Linked DNA regions of Homo sapiens. The gene in region 1 interacts genetically with each later gene. Each region holds a gene or a part of one and is shown in the gene's direction. Other genes may lie near its edges.

Region 1 (3,500 bases):
AGCTGGTGCCTGTCCTCCATGGGACATTGGACACTTACGTGTTTTCAGGAGCTGGGGGCCCCTACCTAAGCCTGGGAACGTAGAGCTAAGGTCCTGGGGCTAGGGACAAGCAGGCTAGGGTGTGGGCCTGACTAAGGTAGGGCTCTATTCCCCTTCAGAGCCCCACCTGTCCCTGAGTCATGCTAGAAACACCTGGCAGCCTTCCGGCTCGGGCCAAGCCAAGCCGATTTCCTGCCTCAAGTGAGGACAAAATCCCAGTCCCCACCCACCCCAAGCTGTAGGCACAAGGTGTATGGGGTTTCGAGGCTCAGCTCCACATCTACTTTTGCCTCCAGGGCTACTAATCAGTGCTGAGGTCTCAGGACTGGGTTAAGCCTCTGTGGTCTGATGGAGCCTTCAGAGGCTCCTGCTTCGAGGAGTGCCCTCCGGGCTGGTGAGAGAGAGTCCTAAGCACCTAGGGCTGGCTACTGAGCCCCGTCTGCACCTCGCACTCAGCTCCAACACCGCGAGTTCATACCCTGGTGTACTGGTTTCCCAGAGCTTCCACAGTCCTCCCCTGGAGCGTGATTGCAGCCCCCAAAAACACCCCCTTGCTAAAAGCAGGGGAGAGGTTAGTACCCCCTAGCTTCCAGAACTTAGTTCTGGCACCCAGGCTGTAGGGGTTTGGTTTATCCCTTTTGTACCCTGAAGGGGGGTATAGGAAGCAGCCAGGAGTACAGGCAGACCTTTGGAGTCTAGGGAGAAGGACCATGTCCCCAACCTTGTGCTGGCCAATTAACTCCAGCATTCAGCCCCTTATGCAAGTGGGGAAACCGAAGCCCAGAGGAGACAGGGTTTGCTGAAGTGCACACAGAGAGTCAGAGAAGAGCCAGCAGGGGGCAGGAGAAGACTCTTGCGGAGCTGAGACTTCCAACTGGGCTCTCCTCTTGAGGGTCTATGATGCCTTGGACCAGAGACCAAACCTCTTGAGCCTGTTTCCTCATCTGTGAGATGTACGGGGTGGGCCAGGCACCGTGGCTCATGCCTGTAATCCCAGCACTCTGGGAGACCAAGGCGGACTAATCACAAGGTCAGGAGTTCGAGACCAGCCTGGCCAACATCGTGAAACCCCCATCTCTACTAAAAATACAAAAAATTAGCCAGGGGTGGTGGCGAGCACCTGTAATCCCAGCTACTCGGGAGGCTGAGGCAGGAGAATCTCTTGAACCCGGGAGGTGTTGCAGTGAGCTGAGATCACACCATTGCCCTCCAGCCCCAGCAACAGTGTGAGACTCCGTCTCAAAAAAAAAAAAAAAAAAAAAAAAAAAAAAAAAGATGTACGGGGTGGTTGTGAGGATGGAATGGGGGTAACTCACCATCAGGATGGGCATGGCAGGGTGGGGCAGGGAGAATGAGGAGTGGACCTTCCAGCCTGGGCCTTCTCCCTGCCCTTGCTACACTGAGAGCCCTGTGGGGGCAATGTGGGATGGTAACCGGCAGGCCCAGGGCCTTCTCCAGTCAGGCCAGGTGAGGGGTGAGAGTGTTGGGCTGCTGTGGCCACTGACAAAGGCCCCAGAGGGTCGGGGCACAAGGCTGAACCCTGACTCCTTCCCTTCCCTGACCTTTCCCAGCCTGGCCTGGAAGCCCTCAGCCCCAACACCAGCTGCCGCCACTTCCCTCTGCTGGTCAGTAGCAGCTTCTCACGTGTGGACCTATTCAATGGGCTGTTGGGACCAGTACAGGTCACTGCATTGTATGTGACACGCCTTGACAACGTCACAGTGGCACACATGGGCACAATGGATGGGCGTATCCTGCAGGTGGGTCCTCATCCCCACAGTCCCCTAGCCCTGGGTCCTTGTCTCCATCCCCATTTTGCTCACATCTGACCTGTCCTAGGTGGAGCTGGTCAGGTCACTAAACTACTTGCTGTATGTGTCCAACTTCTCACTGGGTGACAGTGGGCAGCCCGTGCAGCGGGATGTCAGTCGTCTTGGGGACCACCTACTCTTTGCCTCTGGGGACCAGGTGAGGTGGGCAGGGGCAGGGCCTGGGGCCAGGGTTGTGGGATCACAGACTCTCCATCCAATCCAGGGAGGCATTGACATACAGGCCCTACCACCCTAGCCTACTGTGTACCGGGAGGGTCTATAGGGCCCAATCTCTCCCTCCAGGCACCCCTGAGTCACCTGTCTTTCACCCACAGGTTTTCCAGGTACCTATCCAAGGCCCTGGCTGCCGCCACTTCCTGACCTGTGGGCGTTGCCTAAGGGCATGGCATTTCATGGGCTGTGGCTGGTGTGGGAACATGTGCGGCCAGCAGAAGGAGTGTCCTGGCTCCTGGCAACAGGACCACTGCCCACCTAAGCTTACTGAGGTATGGCTTCCCTGGCAGGGCACAGGTAAGAGTGGGACAGGCTGGGCCTGGGGTGGTGGTCAGCAAGTCTTGATCACAATTTTTCTCAGGTCTGGGGGGTGTCCTTCATATCTACAAGGAGGGCATTCTTGTCAGAGGGGATGCCACATGCAAAGACTTGGAGGCAGGAAAGTGCTTGAATGCAAGTGACTCCAAATGGCTGGAGCGTGGGGAAGGCAAGGGGTATGGCAGGAGACTTTGGGGAAGCAGGTGGGGCTGAGAGAGCCCAACCCCACATGAGGACTCAGGCTGTTTCCCCCATTTCAGTTCCACCCCCACAGTGGACCTCTAAGGGGCAGTACAAGGCTGACCCTGTGTGGCTCCAACTTCTACCTTCACCCTTCTGGTCTGGTGCCTGAGGGAACCCATCAGGTCACTGTGGGCCAAAGTCCCTGCCGGCCACTGCCCAAGGACAGCTCAAAACTCAGGTACAATCTGGTCCCTCCCCTCCCTTTCCCTGAAGGGGGAAACCAAGCAGCCCCTTCCCCATGAGACCCTGTTCTCTGCTTATCAGAGGCAAGGGGGGATGGGGGAAGCTGCAGTGGTTCTGACTGCTTTTTGAGAGTCAAAAAGGTCTCTGTCCCTTTTTGAGCTTTCATGTGCCCTTCCTGTCTGTTCACTCATGGACCAGCCAAGGTTAATCTCTGCCCCACCAGAACCTTCCTTCCATGGAGGGAGGCATGGGTGGAGAAATGCCATTCTCTGGCTCAGAGGAGCCCTGTGGCTTGTGGCAGGCATGCATCTAGGCCTGTGTAATTCCTGGCTGACCTCAGGGGTTCCCCTGGTGCCCCAGACCAGTGCCCCGGAAAGACTTTGTAGAGGAGTTTGAGTGTGAACTGGAGCCCTTGGGCACCCAGGCAGTGGGGCCTACCAACGTCAGCCTCACCGTGACTAACATGCCACCGGGCAAGCACTTCCGGGTAGACGGCACCTCCGTGCTGAGAGGCTTCTCTTTCATGGTGAGGCTACCTTGCCCTGTCTGTGCCCTTGGCCAGTGCATGGTACGGGAAGGGAGGGGCTTGGAGTGGAGGACCTGCCTAAGCCACCTCTATGTCCTCTTAGGAGCCAGTGCTGATAGCAGTGCAACCCCTCTTTGGCCCACGGG
Region 2 (3,146 bases), on another chromosome or scaffold:
GGCACGCGCCGCAGGAGGCTGGGACTGGTCCAGTTTGTACTGTCGATAGTTTTAGATAAAGTATTTATCATTTTTTAAAAAGTATAAACAATTCTGACTTATTTTATTCCATCTAAGTGGTAAAAGGCAACTTATTGAGAAATATAAATATCTATATATGAGAGCTCTATATAAAGACACGTGTCTGCAGGGCGGGCCCGCCAGCGGATTCGCCACAGCCTGCCCCGGTGCTATCTCGTCCCCAGGCCCGCGCCTGCCTCCACCCGCTTGGTGCTGACTAGACGCTGACAACGCCGAACCCCGTTCTCGGAAACGCCGCCCGGCCGGCTCCCCCGACGCGCTGCTCCCGTACCAAAGGCAGGCCCGTCGCCACCACATTCCTCGGAGGCCTCCCCGCGGCCTGAGCCCCTTCCTGAGCGCCCTGGCGCCTGCCCTGAGCTCTTCACCTTTACCCCGGCACTGTGAACCCCCAGACTGTTCACCCTCCGGGGCGTGGGTTGCGCCCTTGCATGTGAAGGGGCCTGCGCGGTGACGCAGCTGGCCATGTGCTGCGCGATGGTGCTGTGAGGACGGCGCGGGCACGTTGAACAAGTGCATTTACTTTTGTATTTCTCGGCTGTCCATGGCTCGCAGCATGCCCTGCGATGCGGGGCAGGCCTGTCGTGGGTCCCTTGGTGTTTCTGTACAGGAGAGAGTCACACTAATGAGTGGCAGTATTTTATAGAGATGTGATGAGAATTTATAAATTTCATAGATTTGACAGCTTTTATTTTTAGATGGTATAATGCACAGTGAAGAGGAAAGAAAAGCGAGGGGAAAAAACCTTATTTATTCAAACAGTGCACAAAATGGCCCCAGCGTCAGCCCCGACCCTAGACCCCTCAGTTGCAGCTCCCAGCAGCCCAGACAGAGCTGCCGGCGCCCCTGCCTGCCCCACATCCCTTCCTGTCAGGGCCACGCCTGGCACCCATCCCTTGGAGCCTGTGCTGGTTCTCCCAGCTGCTGTGGGTGTGCTGGGGCCAGGGTGCACTGCTGAAACCTGGCCTCTCTGGCCCTAGGCCCCAGGGTGACGTCGGCCCCCCACTCTGCAGCCTTGGCGGGTGCCTGGGACTGGGTGTGGAAGGAGAGGAGCTGAGGCCGGGGTGTAGCAGGCAGGCAGGGCCACTCCAGTGCTTCTGGAGCCCTGAGCAGTCAGGGCCTGGGTTGTCTGAGCAGTGGTGGCTCTGTGCCCTCCCTGGAGGATGGGATCTGGGAGTCTGAGCTCCCCGCATCTGGCCCTGGGCTGTGTGGCACTTGCTGAGCCCACCTTCTCAAGTGCTTGCTCCTGTGAGATGGCATCGGGGAGCCCCTTCCCCAAGGTGCCACAGATCCACCCTCCAGGGAGCTGCCAGCCCTGTGTTCTGGTTCCCAAGGGCAGGATGGACACACGTCACATCCCTACCACGTGGCCTCCAAAGGGAGCCACGGAGGAAAGGCTTCTGTGGTTGCTAGGTGGGGGAGTCCTGTGTGGGAGGGCCTGAAGACCCCTGCTTGTGCCTGGTGAGGGGGGTGCTGCCTCCCCCAGCCCCCAACAACCTCTCAGACCCCCACCCTCCAACATAGCTGAGTTCTGAAGATGGTGCTCCGGACCTGTCCTCTTAAGTGGTGCCCAGTGCCCTCCCCACCCCACGTTGGTGCTCTCAGCTAGAAGGTGCTGTGCCTCTGCCTGAGCCCCAAGCCCCGAGCCTGGCCTTCAGGACAGGCAGCCTGCTCTGTGTCGCCACGGGCCGGATACGCCACAGGGTTGATGGCAGAGACGGCCGAGTCCCTGGTCTAGAACAAGACACATTCTTTAAACACTGTATTACTTCTGCCTCCCTCTAGGTGACAGTGGCAGTCCGGGTGCCATCACGGGTCCTGCAGATGGCCATGCAGGGCTCCTGCCCACGCAGGCCACCGTATGTTCAGGACACGCACTGGGTCTCAGAGCCACTGGCCCAGGCAGAAGTCTCCTTGAGCCCACTGGGTCATATGCGTGTCACCACACGTGAACTAGTGTGGTGGCTGCCTGCGGACACCCTCCTGTTCTGAGCCCTGGGCCTGTGTTCTTCTCAGACACTCCCAGACTGAGGGGTGGTGTGTGGCGGGTGGCAGGGTGGCTGTGGAGACTGGGGATCTGGAGCCTGGTGCTGGCACCTGGCCTGAGTTTCCGTGGGCAGCTGGCGGGGACCTGTGCTGCTGCTGCTGACTGTGGGTGGGCGGGCGGCGCCTGGGAGTGGCTCTTGCTCAGGAATTGATAGGAACCCTAAAAACTAGGATACCCCCTCCTCGGCCCATGAGGCACGCACAGTGACTTATTTAAGACTTCCCCCTTAATTTATCTGCCCCCAGGATGCGTCAGTCTGTTCAGTGGTCAGCAGGCCCCCCACCCCCCGCCGACTGCCCTCGCCATCGTGGTCAGACCCCCCTCCCAACACAACACGCTGCTGGTCTGTGTCAGCCTTTGTAACGTGGGAGGCTCTGCCGTGTCTTCCGGGTGAACTGTATTTGGATTGCGCGCATTGTCACGGTCCGCCCCTGGGCTGCAGGCGCCCCTTCCTCTGGGCACCCCTGCATTCTGCATCCCCACCTCTAGACGCTGTAATAAACAGACTGTTTTCACTCGGACCTGGTGTGAATGGCAGCCTTTCTTCCAGGTGGCATGAGGCGTCTCCTGGCGGCCAGTGAGAGGCCCCGGCTAGTGTGTCATCGCCGAAACGGGGAGTGGAGGGCCTAGGGGTGCTCCTAGCAGAAGCTCCGGGGGCTGACACCAGGACACCCTGGCCTTGGGGAGGCTTATGAGGGCACCAGGCCACAGGCAAGGGGAGGCTTATGAGGGCACCAGGCCACAGGCAAAGTGCCTTTTGATGAACGGAAAACCAGATCTGCGACCCCAATGACATCGGCAAAGTCCTTTTCACATCAGATGGACCAAAGCCCGCCCAGGCCCCAGCCACACTCCGGGAGGGCCCGTGAATGCCAGAGGCAGGACCCCAGGTCACCACAGGATTCCTGATACCACACAGCAGCTCTGTTCTCCCCAGGCCTGGGTCCCAGCCTCCACCTGTCCTGGCTGGGGGTTCTAGCTCTCCCCTCAGTGCAGGAGGCCCAGCCACTGCCTCTCAGGA

Evidence for each region. A genetic interaction does not mean that the proteins touch.
Region 2: changes in MST1R (region 1) and DOT1L together harm fitness more than expected from each alone (negative genetic interaction), as found in Homo sapiens cells (one large-scale study listed by BioGRID).

Annotation. Positions count from the first base shown.
Region 1 is NC_000003.12:49,897,374-49,900,873, reverse strand, and holds part of MST1R (macrophage-stimulating protein receptor isoform 1 preproprotein), read left to right. Parts: intron 1-1,610; coding exon 1,611-1,799; intron 1,800-1,878; coding exon 1,879-2,007; intron 2,008-2,185; coding exon 2,186-2,356; intron 2,357-2,662; coding exon 2,663-2,823; intron 2,824-3,188; coding exon 3,189-3,354; intron 3,355-3,457; coding exon 3,458-3,500. UniProt on the Homo sapiens protein: Receptor tyrosine kinase that transduces signals from the extracellular matrix into the cytoplasm by binding to MST1 ligand. Regulates many physiological processes including cell survival, migration and differentiation.
Region 2 is NC_000019.10:2,229,933-2,233,078, forward strand, and holds the end of DOT1L (histone-lysine N-methyltransferase, H3 lysine-79 specific), read left to right. Parts: 3' UTR 1-230; coding exon of another isoform or gene 231-680; 3' UTR 681-2,646; downstream 2,647-3,146. Other genes in the region: PLEKHJ1 (pleckstrin homology domain-containing family J member 1), read right to left, coding at 231-680. UniProt on the Homo sapiens protein: Histone methyltransferase. Methylates 'Lys-79' of histone H3. Nucleosomes are preferred as substrate compared to free histones. Binds to DNA.